Regions from separate parts of the Homo sapiens genome. Here region 2 is linked to region 1. The links come from fine-mapping of genetic effects on gene expression. A gene starts in region 1. The other region holds a variant in brackets. All regions are shown on one strand. Distances are from middle to middle.

Region 1 (9,614 bases):
GGATAATGCTGCGAGTTTAATTATTTTAAAAATTAGTTGTCTCATGCTTCTCCTAAAGAAAGATGAAACAATAATACCACCTGGGGAGGTTTAATTTCATAGTCCACAACTGGACTTTCATCTTCAAATATGATGTGAAACATTTATAGTATGAAGTTAAGAACAAAAATTAAAAGTATTTCAATTTAACGACTACTATTCACACTTCCTTTCTGCCAAGGTAACTCTCCATAGCTTTGAGGTCTGCTTTCCAATGTAAAAAGGACCTTTGTTTCTTTCTAATGTGTTGGTATGGTTGCCTCCATTCAGCACTTCGTTTTATTATTTTTAAGTGCCAAATAAATAAAACAAACAATGGCAGTGTAGCATTCCATGCTAAAAATTATTCCATGCATGCAAAGAAAAACTTCCTATGAGAATTGTTTAAAAGCTGTTTTAAGAGCTCTTGATACAAGTGACAGGACACCACACTCCACACTCAGATGGATATCTTCACCTTCAGTCTGTTATTGCTGTGGTCTCCTTTTAATCCCTTCAGCATCCTGCTGAAATCAAGTTTATAAACAGAAGTTTGAGAATGGATCAACACCAACACTGTCAAATATCTAAGTCAACAGTTTAAATCCTTTAAGTCTACTTCCACTTTCTGAATCTGTAAATTCCTCTATCTCCCTATATCTTACAAAAGTAGTTTCACAAATATGTTAGTTGTGAGGCTTTCTCCAAACTGTGTGTCTTTAAAGAAAAGCAAATGATAGCATCAGAAATTATAAGCAATTAGAGCTACTTTTCCAGGCAAAGCAGAGATGACAGGCAATTTCTTCCTATTAAGAAATAATTGATATGTGCTCTCAGACTTAGCTATGCATGTCCAAGTATATCTTATACAATGTAAATTTCCTTCTAATTTTTTCTCTTGTGAAAATATGACAAGGCAAAACATTTGACACACATCTATTTTAAGTGTCCCTTTTTTGCTATTTGTATGTTACCATTGTTAAAGGATTGGGTCACATGAATTGAATTTGTATAATCTTATCTTTATATAACCATTTCATAGAGACTCATTAAAAAGAACTCATTTCTAAAAAGATGAATACGGTTTTAGTTATATTCCCCAGTCTTAGAAATGGGCACAAATGTTAACATGAATACAAGATAAACTAAATTCAAAAGATTGCAATTATTTCACCAAAGCTAAAGTTGACATGTACATAACATAAAAATAGGGTTTTAAATATGTAAAGAAGGAAAAGTTCAACATTCTTTTAATAATCCTCTATATGTCAATAAAAGTAACTTTATCTATTCATTTGAACTGACTATAGAAGATTTTTACCTGGAAGCACTGTTAAGAGCTACTCAAAGTTTGTATGAAAATAACTGAACCATCTTTTACTTATTTTTTTCACTAAGTCAAACTGTAATTCCTCCCCACTTAGCTTTTTAGTGAGGTTTCAGGATGCATGGATTTCTCTATTTCCCCCTTTTTTTCTTTAAAATTAAATCACCATTCAGTCCATTACTACAGTATTATTCCTAACTAACAGATCATGCCTGAAAACCCTGGCTTTTACAGAAATGTTTTTAACTAATATTGTTAACAGCTTGAATCCACAAAATCTTCTCAGCTACTCTCCCAAATCCAAACACAACTCCTGTCAGTAAAACATGAAAAAAATGAGTTTGTGGGGGAAAATCTGTGAGGTTACCATTGTGTTTATCCCCCTCGGTTGGCAACATGAAATGCCAACTCATGATTTAAATAAACCACTGGCAACGAAGGGCCTGGCTGGCTGCAAGTCAGTTCTCCAAATCAGTTCTATTCAAGTATCCTTGCTAAGCAGTGTCTTTGCGGTTTTCAGAATAAGACGACACAAGTGACAGATAGATTCAGAGATAATGAAATCAGCTAGTTTACGAAAGTGAGAGGTAAACCTTTCTGAAGAGAAAACAGGTATTTCATTGAGTTGCTATCTTGAAACATTTACTTGTGCTAAAGTAATTTAATTTCACTTATTAACTTCAAGACTAAAGGTGTCTTTATTTTCACAGTATAGATGCTGTTAGAATTGCAGAATAGAACTAGGATATTAAAAAAGAAATTTTGGTGCAATTTACTTTCATATAGCTCTTTCCTAGCAGTTCAATAAATGGCCATTAATCGATCATAAAGTGAAATTCTTTTCAAAGAGAAGTTTTGATACTCCCTCTGCCCAGTTAAGGAGTTAAAAGCCAATTCCACGCAACTGGGAACAGTTTATCTCACTGGGGGCTTCGGGCCCAAATTCAGGGACATCTGTTTGTTTTTCAGTCTCTTCTTGAGGAAGAGGACTCCAGAGGGAAGGAAAGATAATTTTCTCAACCTGTAGCCCATTCCCAAGACTCTGAATCTAAATCTAACTTCTTCAACCTTGATAATGTGCTGGTGGTTTGAATGGCTGGGAGAGTAAAGGGGATCAAATTTAGCTGTGTTTTACTTTCCGCTTCAGCGTAGAAACAAGAGGCAATCTCATGCGATTGAGAAGTACCACCCTCCTGTAAATGACAACTTTTCAGACATAGAGAAAAGACGAAACATTCTCCAATCTTTGGGACGTGTTTTAAAACTCTGGGATGTTTGTTTTTCTTCCTTCACTGTGGATTTAGGGGGAATAAAATGGTTTCCTTCCTAAATTCTAGATTGATGCTCACTGACCCAATTCCTTGTGTTCCTTCGAACTCCTGTGCAGTCCATACCCTCGCTTAGCTTCAGTGAGATTTTTAAAATTGTTTCAAGTAAGAGGAGATTGAGTAATGTGAATGTAAAGCAGCCTTAGGCAACTAGAATAATGTTCTCTTCAATTTCTTCGTCTGAGATACGCAAAATCGTTCTTCCTGTAATCCTTTCCGAAAATAACTTTCTGTTGGGCCTTGTTGGACTTGGAGAGGTTGTCATGATTTTCTCTGGAAATTGCAAATAAATAAATAAATAAAAAGGTCTTCTAGTACTATAGCCATCGTAAAATTTAAAAATGTCAAAGTGACCGGGTACTGGGAATAGGAGGTAGCTACTGGAAGGTGAGCAAGGACAAAAGCAGGGTTTCCATGCATTGGTTGGACATGCTAGTGGAGCTTGCCTTCCGCCGCTTCCCACCCACCAACCCCCATTCCCCCTGCACAACACTGCCAAGCCCAGGCTGCTCGAAAAGGAGCCGGCTTCAGCCACCGATGTTCACGCCCAGAGATGTCCAAAACGGAACCTCCGTGTCCAAGGAGGGACTGCGGGACTTGCGCGAAAGTGGGGGACCGGACCCTCCGGGGCCACACCCGCCCGCCCCGTGGAGTCCCTGGTGCGATGGTTGCGTTGACACCTGTACTCCTGCGGGCCTGGGTGAAGCCGACCCAGCAGAAAGGGTGCGCAGCAGCGGCCAGCGAGACTGGGACCTGAACTCCCCATCTCCCGCACACAGAAGAGCGTACTGTGGCTCTTTGGATGAGGGTTTCCTCTCTTGCCCCAAAGAAAATGATGATAGGTGGTTGTACCTATCTTCAGAAACGCCTAGGGAGGGCACATTGGGGTGGAGGTGGGATGGATGTTCTGCTTCACCCTTGCGCCTGGATAATCAGAAGCTCCAGAAGCTGGCAGATTTCATCCAACAGGCAGCTTGGCCCCTAAAAAGAGGCTTGCATGGAAATGTACTAGAAGAGTGTCTTTATTTTAACTTTTCATTGATTAGAAAACTTTACATAGATTACATTGTTGTTAATTAAGGAAATTGTCGAATCGCTCAAGATGGCTCACCAGTTACAAGCATTTGGAGACACGGAGCCATTTCCCATCTATAAATTGGGCAACACCAAAACTGCAACCCTAAAACAATTTGGCTTAAAATACTCACTTTTAAAACACAAATAGATCTTCAAGGGTTCATTTATTCACAGTCTTATAGCCTGAGACTCTATAAAGACTTTCTGTTGTATTTAAGCTGGGGAATAACTAGGGTTTGAAATCCATGCTGCCTCTTTCTTGAGTCTAGACTCTTAATGCTCCCAACCTGTTCCCTTGGTCCCCCCAAGTCTGGCCCGCCTCTATTCCCGTAATGCCCCTTCCGCCACCTGACCCAGCCATGGAGATAGCCTTGTCTCAATGCATTCCTAAACTTATAGAACTGAAGACTCCACTGTTACACCCCCTTTCCAGAGGGCTTGGTGGGGGGTAGGCTTGAGAAGGATGGGTAGGGTCGCAGGAAGGAGGGCGAAGCCAGCAGACCTCTCAGGGAGGGCCGGAGAGAGAAAGGGGTGAAGGTTTTATAGTTGGAGTGCATATACTTCCAGCTCTCCAAAATGAAACATACCATCGCAGCTGGTATTACCGGCTGAATAGGCAGCAAAAGACCTCTCTGTGTACGGGTCCTAGTATGCTTCTTCTTAGCGCCAACGAGTCCTTGTCCCCAAAGTTGCCAAAACTTTAAAGGACCCCGGCCAAGGAGACCCCAGCATGAAAAGCCAGACATCCGAGGCCGGGTAAAGCCTCCTGGACTCCTCGAAAGCAGCTCACACCGGGAGCAGCCGGAAGCGGGCGCGATCTATGCGAAGCTAACGGGTTCCGGTGGAGAACATCAAAGAGAAAGGAGCAGGATCGAACTTTAGAGGGGCAGAAGGGCACGGCCCAAGAGAGCAGAATTGGGGTGTGGGACAGGCGGCGGGAGGACCAGGTTAGAGGGAGCGAAAGGAAGTGGATTAGAGGACAGCGGTTACAGGTTTCAGCCACTGCCATTTCCCCGCAGAGGTAGCTCTTCTGCGCCCTGGAGGGGTACCCGGACTCCCACATCCTGTCTGCCACGACCCGGACTCCCTAGGGGATTCCAAGGGACAGCACCGTCCTCCCCATACATCATCAGGAACCGAAAGCAGAGAATTTGCCCCACCTCGGCACTTCTGGAAGCACCCACTCAACTACAGTATGAGACAAGGGCTTTCCTAAGAGACCTTTCTCCAACTTTCTTTCTCTGCGTGTATGAGCCCGGATCCCTTCGTCCCCGCCTCCTTCTCTCTCTCTCTTTCTCTCTCTCTCCTATTTTGTCCTGGGAGATTCCTACTCGCGGTGCGAAGCCTCGGATCCGCTGGGAACCGCATAGTCTCCGGCACCCTTGGCCGCATGCTTGTCAGAGGTGGGCCCCGGGAAACACACTCGCTGCCCCTCCAACAAGCGTCCCTCGCTCCCCATTGGCCCCCCGGTCCCCGCCCCCCACCGCCCCCTCCCGCTCCGCAGCCCCCGAGTGGCGTCAGCACGCCCGCCGGGCATGGGCTTTAAATGCCCACTAGCGGGAGCTCAGGCGCTTCTGCCCTGGAGCGCGGTCGGGAGTAAAATCGCAGGAGTGGGAGGGTAGCGAGCCAGCTGGATTCCGAGCCGCGGAGCGCGCTGGCTTTGCTCCGCCTGATGACTCCAGAGCGCGGGTCCAAGCGCCGCCCATGCAGCACCCCTGAGCTCCGGGGAAGGAGAGTTAATGAAAAAACACTTAACCGTCTCCGCTGCGGAGAGTCATGAGCTGTCTGGATGTTATGTACCAAGTCTATGGTCCTCCGCAGCCCTACTTCGCAGCCGCCTACACCCCCTACCACCAGGTACGTGTCTCCTCTGGGGACTTTGGGAAGGAGTGCGCGCCCCCCGTTTGCGGCGGCATGGCCTGTACGCCAAGGTCTGCTGTGCCTCCGCGCGTCTCGGGCGTCCGACCACGACCGGCGCAGCCGGGATGCGGGGATTGCCGGAGCCGCCCCCAGTTGGTAGTGCAATTAGCTAACCCCTTTAGCTCGCCTGTTTGCTCTCGGGAAGCAGCTAAGCCCTGCTAATGTGAGCCTAGGTCTTCCCTGGAATAATCAGAGGAAGATGGCACGGGCTGGATTTTCTTCTTAGGGTCTGTCGGACTCCAGATTCTTCCAAGCCAGGTGCAGGTACCAGGAAATGCAGGCAAAGCTGACGCAGGAAAAACCAAACTTTGGTCCCAATGGTGAGAGTAACAACAAAACCAAAAGCGAAGGCCAGCCAGCCTCTTTCTGAGATGCAAGGGCCGGTGTTCTCATCCCTGCAAGTTTATCTCAGGAATAATTTCTTCCGTTTCAATTCTCTGGCGACCAGGGCAATTAATTCCAGATCCAGAGAATTCATTTCAAAGAGCACCGCGCAGTTTTATAATTTTTTCCTTTGCGAAGTTCTGGGAGCATTATCCGGAGTGCGAATGACCCGGCAGAGGCGAGCCTGATAGACAATACTTTGCCTTTCTCCAGCCTGAGTAGGTGAATGGGGAAGCCCTGCTTCCAACAAACACTTTAAGAAGACCACTCAACCCGGGTTCTGCAAACTCTTCAAGTTCCATTTAATTCTGCCAGTTTCTCTTGTCTTCAGGCTGCGTCTGTTTGAACCATTTTCCTTCCATTTCCTCAGCTGAGGTAGCAGAAACTGAGGACAGTAGTGCAGGAAAAGAATGAAATCATACACCTGGGAGGCTGTAGGGGTCCCCTCCAGGTTGGAAAGTGAGAGCTTGGTCACCTGCTTTGGGGAAATTGAAATACACCCCAATGCCCCAGTGGATGCTTTTGCTAATTTTGCCTGCAAATTTAAAATGTCTATTCGAAAATTTCCCGATAAATTAATGATGGACCGGATAGGGTTCACTTTTTGTTTTCTTACCTCCTCTTCTCTTTTAAACTTCACAACTTGCAGTTTGTTTTGCCTCAGTGTTAATTTTAAGAATCACCAGAGTTCCTCTTGTAGGGAAGGTGGCATTTAGGAAGTGGTGATATTGCTAAATCTTACATCGTTTTGTCCCCAATTATTTCAAACCTTTTGGCTCCAGCTTCTGAAATGTACTTCTTCCCAGGGTGGGACTATGGCAAGCAAAGAGGAGAGAGGTGGATTGGTTTTCTGACTGGCCCTTTCTTCTCCCAGACCCCGAACCAATCTATTGCATGAAGATCTCTGTTCATTTTTGTATGACTCGGGCCGCCTCTTCAAGGCCATCTCTGCCTGCAGAATGCTTTAACACTTCATTCAGTCCATTGCTCATTTCTAAGAAAATGTTCACAGAAGCTGCGCCTGCTTTTTAAAATCACTATGAGACATGCCGATTTACCCCACCTCACAGCCAGGATCTTAACTTTCTTCTGTCTGCTCCTTTTTATCATTTCCTCAATGTGTGTGGAGATGATGGGGGTGGAAATACTCGTAATCCACTGGTCTTTCGTTATTAAAGAGAAGATCTGTTTAAAAACTGATATAGGGATAATAAAAAAAAAATCAACTTGCATTTATTAAAATGATCCGTGTTTCCCCAGTCATGTTACCCCAGATTTTTACCCCACACAATTCATTACTAAATGTAATTATTTCAAACTTTTTGTGGCATTTCTTCCTTTACATTCCTGTTGCTTTCCTTCACACATTCCTAGTTTCAGGGAGTGGATTTTGTAGGGGTAGGGGGTTGCCCCCCGCTCCTATTTCATCAGGAGGATGTTTATCCTGTATCCTGTGCTTCTGCCCTGGATTCTCAGGCAAGGAACAGTCAGGCTCTATCTGGACTTGGGTGCCCTTTACCCTTGGAGTCTGATTTTAAAAATATATCTGCCCTGAGCCCAGCTATGAGGTCAAACTCAGCTCTAAACCTAGCTGCTTAGGTGTCTCCTGAAACCTTCACCCAGACATTTTAGGAGAAATTTTCTAGGAGTCAGAGGGACCAAGGACAGCAATCTTCCTTTAAGGAAGCCCGTCCTTGCTTGGGTGCAGGTTGGGAGGCCTGCTAACTATGTTGCCCCGCTATTGCTAGTTTTATGCTAACAGCACAAGGCTTAAGCCCATATGCCAGTTTCCCCATAAATACCTTAGAGATTAGGATGAGGGAATCAGTCTGAACCGAATTTGCCATCGCTTTTGAAATTGATATCTCTGTTCTTTCTCTCTCTGAACAGAAACTAGCCTATTATTCCAAAATGCAGGAAGCGCAGGAGTGCAATGCCAGCCCCAGCAGCAGTGGCAGCGGCAGCTCCTCATTTTCCAGCCAAACCCCAGCCAGTATAAAAGAGGAAGAAGGCAGCCCAGAGAAAGAGCGCCCACCAGAGGCAGAGTACATCAACTCCCGCTGCGTCCTCTTCACTTATTTCCAGGGGGACATCAGCTCCGTGGTGGATGAACATTTCAGCAGGGCCCTGAGCCAACCCAGCAGCTACTCTCCTAGCTGTACCAGCAGCAAAGCACCAAGGAGCTCTGGGCCCTGGCGAGGTGAGTATAGGGCCCTGCTGGGAAGGACCCATAGGGGGTCCTCTCAGCCTGGGGTTCACCTACAGGAGCCTAAAAACATGCAGCTGAAAAGAATATTAGGTGTCAGAGAAGGTGTGCAGAGGAGCATTTGGAAAGGGTAAGGAAAACGCAGGGGTAAAGGGCATGGATATAAGAAAAAACTCCTTGGAAAAAACACTATCCTTGGAATTGGAAGACCTAGGTTTGTGTGTTGGTTCCACCACTTCCTAGCAATATAACCTTGGGCAAGTCTCAACCTCTTTGAGGTCACTCTATTTACTGCTCTCTTAAAGTAGAATAACACTTACCCTCCTAACCCCAGAGAAGGCTGTAAGACTCCAACAAGAAAATGGATGCAAATATGCCGTCAAAAACGTGAGGTTTCCAGCACCCTCCCAAACCAGTGAGTGAAGGAGCTTCACTCTAAAGAGCACTTTCCCAATCTGCCAACATTTTCCCAGAGGAAACAGTTCTAGAGCTCCATGCAAGCAAAACCTGTTTGAGAATGTCTCCTAAAACCTACCTTTGCCTTTCACCAGGCTCCAATTGCTTGAGAAATCTTGAAGCAGAAGCGTCTCAATAGCAAGTAAAATAACAAAGAAACAAAAATTTAGATACAGCCAGAACACCTCTAAGAGTTTTCCCAAAACACATCCCCTTTTTATTTTTCTACCTTCCCCCACAAAGCACTGCTTTTTTCTACCCTAGGACAATTATTTGTTGGACAACTCAACTAAATCTCCCTTCTATTCTGAAATCTCAACTTCCCTTTATTACCAACAAAACAAAGGTGGGGGAACCATTAAGTAAACTTGGCTCACTAAGCTGTATTTGATGTGTACCAAGCTGAGAAAGGGGGACTTTGTTGTAAAAACAAAAACAAATTTTCATTTGTCTTTGGGAGGGAAATTACAACCTTCACCCCCTTTTTTCCCCCTTAAGAGACGCTGGCAGTTTGCATAAGGCTTGCCCTTAGACAAGATCCAAAAAACATTCATTTTAAATACAGAACATTCTTTTTATTCTCTGCCTAAATATGTTTAACAGGAAGACTCTTCACCACTTAGAATGCATTTTCAAATCATTTAAAATTCTCTAGTTTATCGTGCAGATGCCTTCCACAGAGGAGGTGTTCCATAAAGGTTCCATGAATTAAATATCTGTCTTTCTCTCCCTTCTTACTAATGGCAACAAATTTGATCTAAACGCTGTTCTCTTAAAATGCTGTCACGGGCTAGGAACCAACAGTGACACTGACAATAGTAATAATAATTATTATTATCCCTGGCGTCCTCGTTTTGATACAAAAGTTAATGAAAACTTAGGATAAAAGACCTGTCTA
Region 2 (9,614 bases), 64 kb before region 1:
TTTTACAGACTTTTTGAAGGTCTTCTTAAGGAACATCTTTTCATTCACATGCCCTTCCTACAGACCAATCCATGACTTAAAGTTGTCACATACTCCATAAAATACTAAGGAACTTTTCATTCCTATTTATAGGAATTTAGGAAAAGTGCCCTCAAAGCAACACATCCCGTTAGCAAGTCTTTCATCTGGCTTGTTAGAAGTTCGTGCTGGGAAGTTTCTGGGCACAGCTCCTACAGTCAAATCTGTCATGTCCCTCTGATTACATGATTCTGTTTTATTACCAAATCTGATTCGTAAGCTCTTCTGCAAAGGCCATTTCTAAGAGGATTCAGGAGTACCCAATTACACGGCATCTCTATATCTTTTACTAAACTTTATTAGATATTATATCCATGCCATAAAAAGTCTGGAAATACTTTAATAGCAAGCCAAGTCATTTGAGATTTATACATGATTAGAAAGAAAATTACTCTCTACAAGTTTCCATTCCAGCCTTGCAAGTGGGTCTTCCACAACCGATTAGATCGCGCCAACTCCCACTCCACACTCTTGAGCATTACTATCACATTGACTGAGCACTTCTTGTACTAATAGACCAAGCCTTGGCCCCAAATCCACTCCTCTCTACACCCTCTCAGGTTCCTGAAATTCCTGCAATCCCAGCTTTCTCCCTCTCAAGTATGCACGGCCATCCTCACATGACAATGCAATGTATATGTTCCATATTTTCTGCATCCCTCCACAAACATTGATTGTTTCACAAAGTAAACCATTATAATTCTAAATTGGCTGGAAGCTGATGGGTTTCTGCATCTTCTTATGCACAGGAATAACTAAATCACAAGCAAAAAAAATTAAACCACATTTCAATTTCTATAGGTAGCTAAGTACACATTAAGCATCTACTTTGGGCCCAACACTATGAGAGAAATCAGAAAAGTATGAGGAAATGGTTCTCAAAATGTGCTTCCGGTGACGCTAAGGCTCTCTGTAACATTTTAGGGGACTCCATGAAGCCAAAACTCTATTTTCATACTGTAACTAACATGCTATTTGTCTTTTTCACTCTTACTCTTGTATGAATAAACAGCGGGGTTTTCTAGAGAGTGTACAACATGTGATATTAGAACAGACTGAATGCAGAAGCAGGCATGAGAATCCAGCTGTCCTTTGTTAAGTCAGGTACTAAAGAGACTTGGAAAAATGAAGAACAATCCCACTCTGTTTTCTAAAATAACATTGTCTTGGAAAATCTAGTTATATTTTATAAAATATGTGACTTATATTAGTGTATAATGGATGAGTTACTTTAAATAAATTAATAAATGAATATTTTATTTTTGTCAATATTAATATCTAAAATGATAAATATCAGTAGATATAACTACATAAACAAAAACTCTTTGGGGTTCTCAATAGCAATTAAGAATGTAAAGGCATCCTGATTCCAACACTTTTTGCTAGAGGTTGGCAAAACCAAGTTCTGCCTCCATGCTGGGATGGCAATATTGGATCCTGGTATTTCTCAGAGCACAGAATCTACAGTATAAACACATCTTTCTCTTCCTAACATTGCTTCCTCCCAGAGTATAACTTTGGGATAATTATGCTAGCTCTCTTCCTCTCACCAGCTATGAGGATTAGAAGTGACAAGGAGTCAACAGGACAAAAGCTCCGTCCTGACACAGGGGTGTAGGTGGCTGGTGGGTTGGTGGTGCAATGTGCAGATTGAAGGTGCCCTGGAAGAAGGGCAGAGATGGTAGGGGGCTATAGTTAGGTGCTCATGAAAATTCCAAACAGAATTTTGGATGTAGAGAGTAGACTTTTCGATGTAGAAGTAGAAAGTTGAACACATGAGTGAATTATGTAAGGAAGTCATGGGCATAGAAAAGTTAATTTAAACAATGGAAACAGATGGATTTTTTCAAGGAGAGTATACAGAATTATAAGACAAAATGCCCAGGTCACAACTCCAAATGATCCTAATATTTAAGGCACAGGTAATAGAAGAGAACCCTGCAAAGGACACTGAAAGAAAGGGGTCAAAGTGGAAGGAAAACTGAGTGTGGTGTTACAGCAGCCAATGAAAAAGAACATTTCAGAAAGAAGGGAGTGTCATCACTTGAATGCTGCTGAGAGATCACATGAAATCAGCATTGAAGTGTGCCTGTTAGTTTTAACAACAAGGTCACTGCAATCTTGGCAAAAGCCATTTCATAGAATAAACATCTTTTGTTTCAGTCTGGTTATAAAATCAAACCATGAAATTTTGATTATGAAAGATGCTTAGCAAAACCTTTTTCAATTTCCTATTTTCTTACTCATACAAAAACATAGTAATTTTTAAAACATGATGTCTTTTGAGCCCAACATATTTAAATGTCTTTTGTCCTTGTTGGTCACTACTGAGAATGAATTAAATCTTCTCAATAGTGAAGTGTTGAAATAATTTATTACAGGTAGGAAGTATCTCCAGCCTGAAAGTTCCTGTGTAACGGAGGTGTTGGTCATCTACAGGAAGGTGCCCATTCTAGAAACCTCGTCATAAACTGTATTTGAGTTCTGAAGGCATCAAGAGAGATGGGATGGGTCGTGGCTATAACTGAAAGGGAAGAATAAACCTACCATAACCAGGAAGAATGGATCCTTTAATTCTGAAGTGATTACATTTGGAGGGGAGGGGTTATTTAGTTGATTCTATTTAGTTTTTTGCTTATTTATGTTTTGGCTGTGATTTTAAGTATTGTGTGATAGAAAGAGTAGCAGCCTGAGTCTGGTTGCCCAGGCTCGAGTTCCTTCCAGAGGTACAGCAGGCTCTGTGTCTTCAGGCTTCCTCTGGACTTAGCAAGGCTTAATCTCTCAAGTAAATATAAAGGTGCACACCTGCTATAGACACATCCAGTGTGAAGACAGCTAATTCCCTACATAAGCTTCCATCAAAAGAATGTACCCACCATTATCTGAAACCTTTCTTCTAGTCTCCCTGTTTTCTTTGCATCATTATCTCCATGGACCTCTACATATTCTTGGAACTCCTTCCTCCATAATCAATGAAAACAGAAGTGATTATTTTCCTCTAAATTCCTCTATGGAAGACATGTGGCAGTTAAACAGTTAATCATTACTACTTTTTAAGTAGCTCTTCTACTATGAGCTCAAATTGCCATTGAATTCTTTTGTTGTGGTTGTTTAATTTTTCCTGCATTTATTTTTTGCCTCTAAAAACAGATCCTATGCTCCTTGATGGGAGAAAAAATTTCTGATTCATCACTGATTTCTCCCACGATACCATTTATGGTAATACCCATAAAGTGGGCAGTCAAAAGATATTTAGTGAGAAGTTTGAGAAATAAGTGTAAAAATATTTTAAAAGGTAAAAATGTCACACAAATATAAAGAATTGTTGTTACTGTCCTTTGCTATAATTTCAATGATAATTCCGCTTCTATAAGATACCAGTCAAATGAAAGAGAATGCCTTGATTCTCAAACCCCAACACATTCCTCCTGTGATATAAAAGGCCTCCAAACTTTGAAATCATAAAATTACATTCATCTAAAATATATGGTTATATATGTTTGCTCTGCTTTTCATCATTCATGTCAATAGTTCATTATTTTGCTTTTACTCCTTAAACTCTCCTACAGCTAGACAGGACCATTAGCAACAGAATTGGGCTACTCTGGCAATATTAAATGGCTAAAGGCCAGAATGCAGTCAGTCTAGTTAGCTGGTCTATTTTAATTTTGTTTCTGCATAATGAAAACAGTCTGCTAAGATGCGTGTGACTTACGTTGACCCACGGATACATCCATTTTTTTTAAATAGATGTCTCTTCTTTATTGAAGACAAGTATGTCTTGTCACAATTTGGCTGCCTAATTTTAGCTCCAGTGGGGTTTGCTTAGACACCAAGCTCCAAATCCAGGCCAGAAATAGGCAGAAGAGTGATGGTCATGT[G/C]TTTAACAAGATCCCAGGCAACGGGCCAACACACATTGGAGCTAGGTTGGAATTTCTTGCCCTGTGAAAATGCAGTGCTAAATCTTCCTATCCCTCTTCTCTCTTTCTCTACAAGTGGATCTCCCCTGTACAGTGAGCTGTCACCTGAAACTAACAAGGAGGATGTGACTCCCAGCAATCTGAGCTACAGTGAATAGTGCGTGACCTACCAGTCTTGACATGCCAACTTGGACTATCATTTCTAGAATGGTTGAAAAATAAATTTTAATGTAGTTCACCTCGATATATGATTTCATTAAAAACTTTTAAAATGGGTACATCTTTACAGTCCTTTGACACTCTCAGCATGTAACACATAGTATTTCTCTCTCTCTCTCTCTCTCTCTCTGTCTCTCTGTAGAAAATTGCTCCTTGTTCTTGTTTCACACTTTCTCATTAGGGCTTTTTAAATAAATATCTATAAAGAGTGAACTCCTACACTCCCCACTCTCATCCTTTTGATTATTATTTGTAGATTTACTGAGAAAATTATTTTTAAGCTTGTAAGTACACCTTGTTGTTTTTAAGATATCTAAATTTGGCTATATGTTCATGTTTCCCCAACTTTCTAGGGCCTTCATATCCTCTTTCATAGAAACTTTGCCATATGTTAAGGTAGTCTATAGAGCCAAAAATAAAAATAGCACATTTATAAATGTGTTTGTCTTTTCTATGACTGACTCTCTAGGATACCTAAAAAGGAACATATAAGAATGAAACAGTCTCTATCAGAAAAGACAGAGAAGCCTGCGACCTCATACAGCATAAAATCTTTGAGTTATTTTCTGAAGATTTTTTGAACAGTTATTAGCTACCTACAGTTCCCAAAATCAAAGAATCAATATATATTACAACCAACCACCATATTTAAAGATTTAATTAAAGTTCTGAACTCTAATAAAAAAAATTTACCCCGGGGAAACTCTTAAGGTGTATTAACTGTGTCCCACTCAAGGGGAAATATGAGTTTCACATTGGATCTAGAAAACCAGACTTGGGTTCCTCTTGGTATAAAGGGGGCATTGGCTATAAGAAGTTTTTTCCAGCAGTGGTAGAAATGGATATGCTATGATCTTTCCTTCTTACCTGTACCTTATTGTGACTTAAACATGGAAGGTAGGGAAACCATCTCTGATTACAGACCTAAGTCACACCCCTCTACCACATACCCAGAAAAGAACATCTGTTACACAGACTGATTAATTCAGTGAACCACCCAATAGGACCAACAGCATCACCACTTAGCTAATGGGCTAATAGATGGAGATGAGCCAGCGGCTTATGTAATGATCCAAACTTTAATGATAAAGGAAAGTCCTAAGCATGATATTAAATATTTTGACTGTGAAATATCTCACTGTCATTATTATTGATCTAGAGATGGATCTTAAAAAGCTTATTGGGAGGTCATGGGAAGGAAGCTAAAAATGGTTTTAGACATAAAACCATTCCTTCTCTCTCTGCGAAGGCCTTCCTCAGGGAACAAGGATGCCCCTTGAGGAGGAAAACCCCTTCAGCTCCTGGGACTCACTGTGCTCTCTCCTGCTTCTGGGCCATTGCACCTGGCATCCCTTTTGATGCTGCGCTCTTCTCCTCAGTCCCCCTTTGCTGACTAACAGGTCTTGGGTTCTTCTGTCACTTCTTCAGGAGTAAGGCAATAAGAGGACAGGGACACTTGCTAAGTCAACCAGACACACTGGAGAAACCCTGGTCAATGCCTTCGCCAACTTATCTGCATCTCCTCATTAACAGTTTTGCTGACTGTTGTTCTCCTCAATACTCTATACTTAATCATATTCATTAAACTCCTAAAATAAGAAAAGCACAGTACAAAGTACTAAGAAATAGTAACTATTAAAGAGGGAGAGTGGTTGCCCTCAAAGAGATCGGAGTCTAGCAAAAGGGAGAAACATACAAACAGGTCATAATAGCACAAAACAGTAAGGCTATACAGAATGTGTGGTCAAAGTGCTATAGCATTTTTTGTTTTTTTGTTTTTTTGAAAGGGCGTTTCGCTCTCTGCCCAGGCTGGAGTACTGTGGCACAATCGCCGCTCACTGCCAGCTCCGCCTCCCGGATTCAAGCCATTCTCCTGCCTCAGCCTCGCGAGTAGCTGGGACTACAGGCGCCCGCCACCACGCCCGGCTAATTTTTTGTGTTTTTAGTAGAGACGGGATTTCACCGTGTTAGCCAGGATGGTCGCGATCTCCTGACCTCGTGATCCACCCCCCTTGGCCTCCCAAAGTGCTGGGATTACAGGCATGAGCCACCGCGCCCAGCCATGCTATAGCATTTTCATAGGTGGAGCTGAGTATGTAAGGTTGAGTAGGATTCTTACAGGTGAGGAGGCAGGAAGAACATAGTAAGCAGGAGACAAAACATAACCAAAGGAAAGACATCACTGGCGGTAGAAAGAAGTGTGTGTGAGTGCTACTTATGGGAGATGAGCTATGCTAGAGAGACTGGGCAGGATCAGTTATGTAATTTGTAGGACCTGGTACAAACTGAAAATGTCAAGCCTGTGGTTCAAAAAGCAGGGGGAGAAGTTCAGTTAAAGATATACCGACATATAAAACTTTTTCCTTTTTTAACAAAAAGGAATGGAGTGATTGTGATACAGGACTACAATGTAAACTTGTAAATTGCAATATATATATATATATATAGGGATCATCGTTTTATGTAACATAGTGAATAATATCTTATTAACATGCTATCTTGGTTGATCATATGATTTTCTGGTCATTTTTCTACAAATCTGTAAGTTCAAAATATTGACACATTTAGCAACTTCATTTTCAAACAATATAATTAAAAGCAAGTCACTATTGGCAAATGCAAAATTGCAAACAAATTTTGATCTGTTTTAAACTTAATTTTAAACTTCAGAATGATCTTTCCACTGTTTCAAACTTAATAGAATTGTTAAGGTTATTTTGCAGGCTATGGCAACATTGGGATACATTTCTGATAAATTATTTCATAATATAAACGTTGGTATATCTAGAGCTGATGATCCTTGCAGAACCATATTTTAAAGATTTGACTCTTCAAGCAAATCAATTTCATGTATGTCTTAATTTAACTTTTTAAATGTAATTTCAAATGTAAATGTATGCAATGACATTTTTGTTTTCTCTATCATTTCTTGAAACTTGTGGCAATTATACAAGAAACTTAAAGCAATTTCACAATTTACATATAATTCAAAATACCTGTTTATGCATTTCACCTCTGTGGCTTCCATTATAAGGAAAAATTAATTTTAAAATTTTCTTTCCTATTAATGGTTCACCTGCAGTTTCATATGAAAATAGCATTAGTTTCTGTCAAATGTGATAATCATTTCATTTTTATTTATAAGCCTGTGGATATTTGCTTTGCAATGTTGCAGCAGTTTTCAAAACCAGAAATTCAAAATTCTTTGGAGAATTCTAATAATTCCCTGAGACATTTTTATCCTATGTCTTATGTATGCTTCCACTTTGTAATGATTTACTGACAATGTTCCTAATCATTGATCTCCAGAGTTCCTGACCTTTCACTCAAGCCAGAGAATTCCTATTTGCACAGATGCACAGGGATGGACTCCGGGGATCAGCAGGCAAGCCTGCTTACCAGCATAGTCCTGGCATTGGCCTCATGCAAAACCCTTCTCTCCCAGAGCCATAGCCCCTGCTGCCACTGCAGCCACTGCTATTGCTTCTGCTTCTACTCTGACATTGCCACTGCTAATCTGGGCCCAGGTTCTAGCCTTGGTCACCCCTTGGGGCCAATGACTCCCAGGGTACCCCAGGCACATGCATGCCAGTAGGCCAGACCAACTGCCCAACTGTTGCTGCCACAGACCTGAGCCCACACATGTACAATCTGCTACCTGGCATGCCTCTGCTGCTCCTGGCTACACTCTGTTGTTTTGTGTGACATCACTTACAAAACACAGGATCAAAGATAAAATCATTAAGAATTTCAAGAAGTCCATAGCAGAGGATTAAGTTGAGCATGGGGCCTCATTACAGGGCAGGGACTCTGTGACTGCACTGCCACTTTCCCATAAAGCCTGCCTTGGGGATGGGGAATACCACGTAGGAAAGAGAGTCTTTAAAGTGTTCTGGGGACAGGTTTTAAAGTTATTTGAATGACTTAAGAGCTCGTGATGTCCTTTAGATACAAAAGATTTTCACGTGGGGAAGGACATTAAATTTGTTTTTTATAAAGTTCACTCTGGCGTCTAATCATGTAGAAAGACTAGTAGGTAAGTCAACTAAAAAACTGTTGGATAGTCTAGGAAAGTGGTTTTGAAAGACTGAATTTAGGGACAGTAACAGATTCAAGAAATAACCATAGTATTTTGAGTAACAAATGTGTAGCAGACACTTTAAAAACATTTTGGCCAGGCACGGTGGCTCACGCCTGTAATCCCAGCACTTTGGGAAGCCGAGGTGGGCGGATCATGAGGTCAGGAGATCAAGACCAGCCTGGCCAACATGGTGAAACCCCGCCTCTACTAAAATTACAAAAATTAGCCAGGCGTGTGGCGCTTGCCTGTAATCCCAGCTACTCAGGAGGCTGAGGCGGGAGAATCGCTTGAATCCAGGGGGCGGAGGTTGCAGTGAGCCGAGATCGAGCCACTAGACTCCAGCCTGGGCGACAGAGCGAGACTCTGTCTCAAAAAAAAAAACCAAAACATTATTTCTAATCTTCAAACAATCCTCTAAGGGACTTATTATCCCTGATAATATCCCAGATGGTCAACTGAGGCAGCTGACAGCCTCAGGGTCTAGTTTCTCAAGGTTACAAAGTAGGTAGAGCAGAGCCACCTTTAAGCCCTGGGCTTCCCCACCTCCCCCACTGCATACCAGTTCTTTTCAGCTCAAGGAAGACACCCCACAATGTGGTGACTGATCTATGCAAAGTGTCAGGGAGAAGAAAGAGTCTAAGATTTATTTAACATTTTCCCTCCCTGTCCTACACCCTCCAAAGTCCTCCAGCTTGTCCATATTTATTTCACTTGTATTTGTAAAATGAGGAAGTTCTGGAAATATAATGTACAGCACAGTGACTACAGTTAATAATACATTGTACATATATTTAAAATTGGAGAAGAGGGTGAATTGTAAGTGTTCTCTCTACGTCAATAAAAGAAAATGGTAATTATGTGAGGTGATGAATATGTTAATTAGCTTGATTGTGTTCATCACCAATGTATACAAATATCAAAACACCAAGTTGTATACTTTAAATATATATAATTTTTGCCAATTATCCCTCAATAAGGCTGGAAAAAATGTCCTTTGAGATAAAAAGGGCCAAATTCTGAAAGGGGAAACATTGAAGTAGGCCCTTTCAAGGTCACACATGTACAGTCAACATTCTATATACACTCTTTTTCTTTCCTCACTACTTCTCTAGTCACGTCGCACAGTGCTCAAGTTTGATCTGGTTTGGTTTAGTTTTTATTTTTCTTCCCCTAAACTGATACCCCACCTATCCCCCTTCCCCACTCCAATGATTGTAAATTGCCCAAAAGTCCACGTGAAGTGTATGTGTTTTCCAAGCTGTGGAGACATTGCCCTCCCTCATTTAGTTCAGGAATAGTCCATGGGGAGTCTTGGT

The links.
Region 2: its variant is fine-mapped to the expression of VGLL2 in atrial appendage (GTEx, PIP above 0.99).

The regions. Positions count from the first base shown.
Region 1 is chr6:117,260,238-117,269,851 of GRCh38, forward strand. VGLL2 (vestigial like family member 2) reads left to right here and starts at 5,321. Exons shown (of 4, transcript NM_182645.3): 1 at 5,321-5,607; 2 at 7,945-8,254. The coding sequence starts at 5,527. LOC105377964 (a long non-coding RNA gene) reads right to left here and starts at 4,837. Exons shown (of 2, transcript XR_942911.3): 1 at 4,338-4,837; 2 at 2,025-2,946.
Region 2 is chr6:117,196,249-117,205,862 of GRCh38, forward strand. No RefSeq gene overlaps it. Among named protein-coding and RNA genes, the nearest start is that of VGLL2, 65 kb to the right of the region's middle. The variant G/C (reference allele first, on the strand shown) is at 3,960.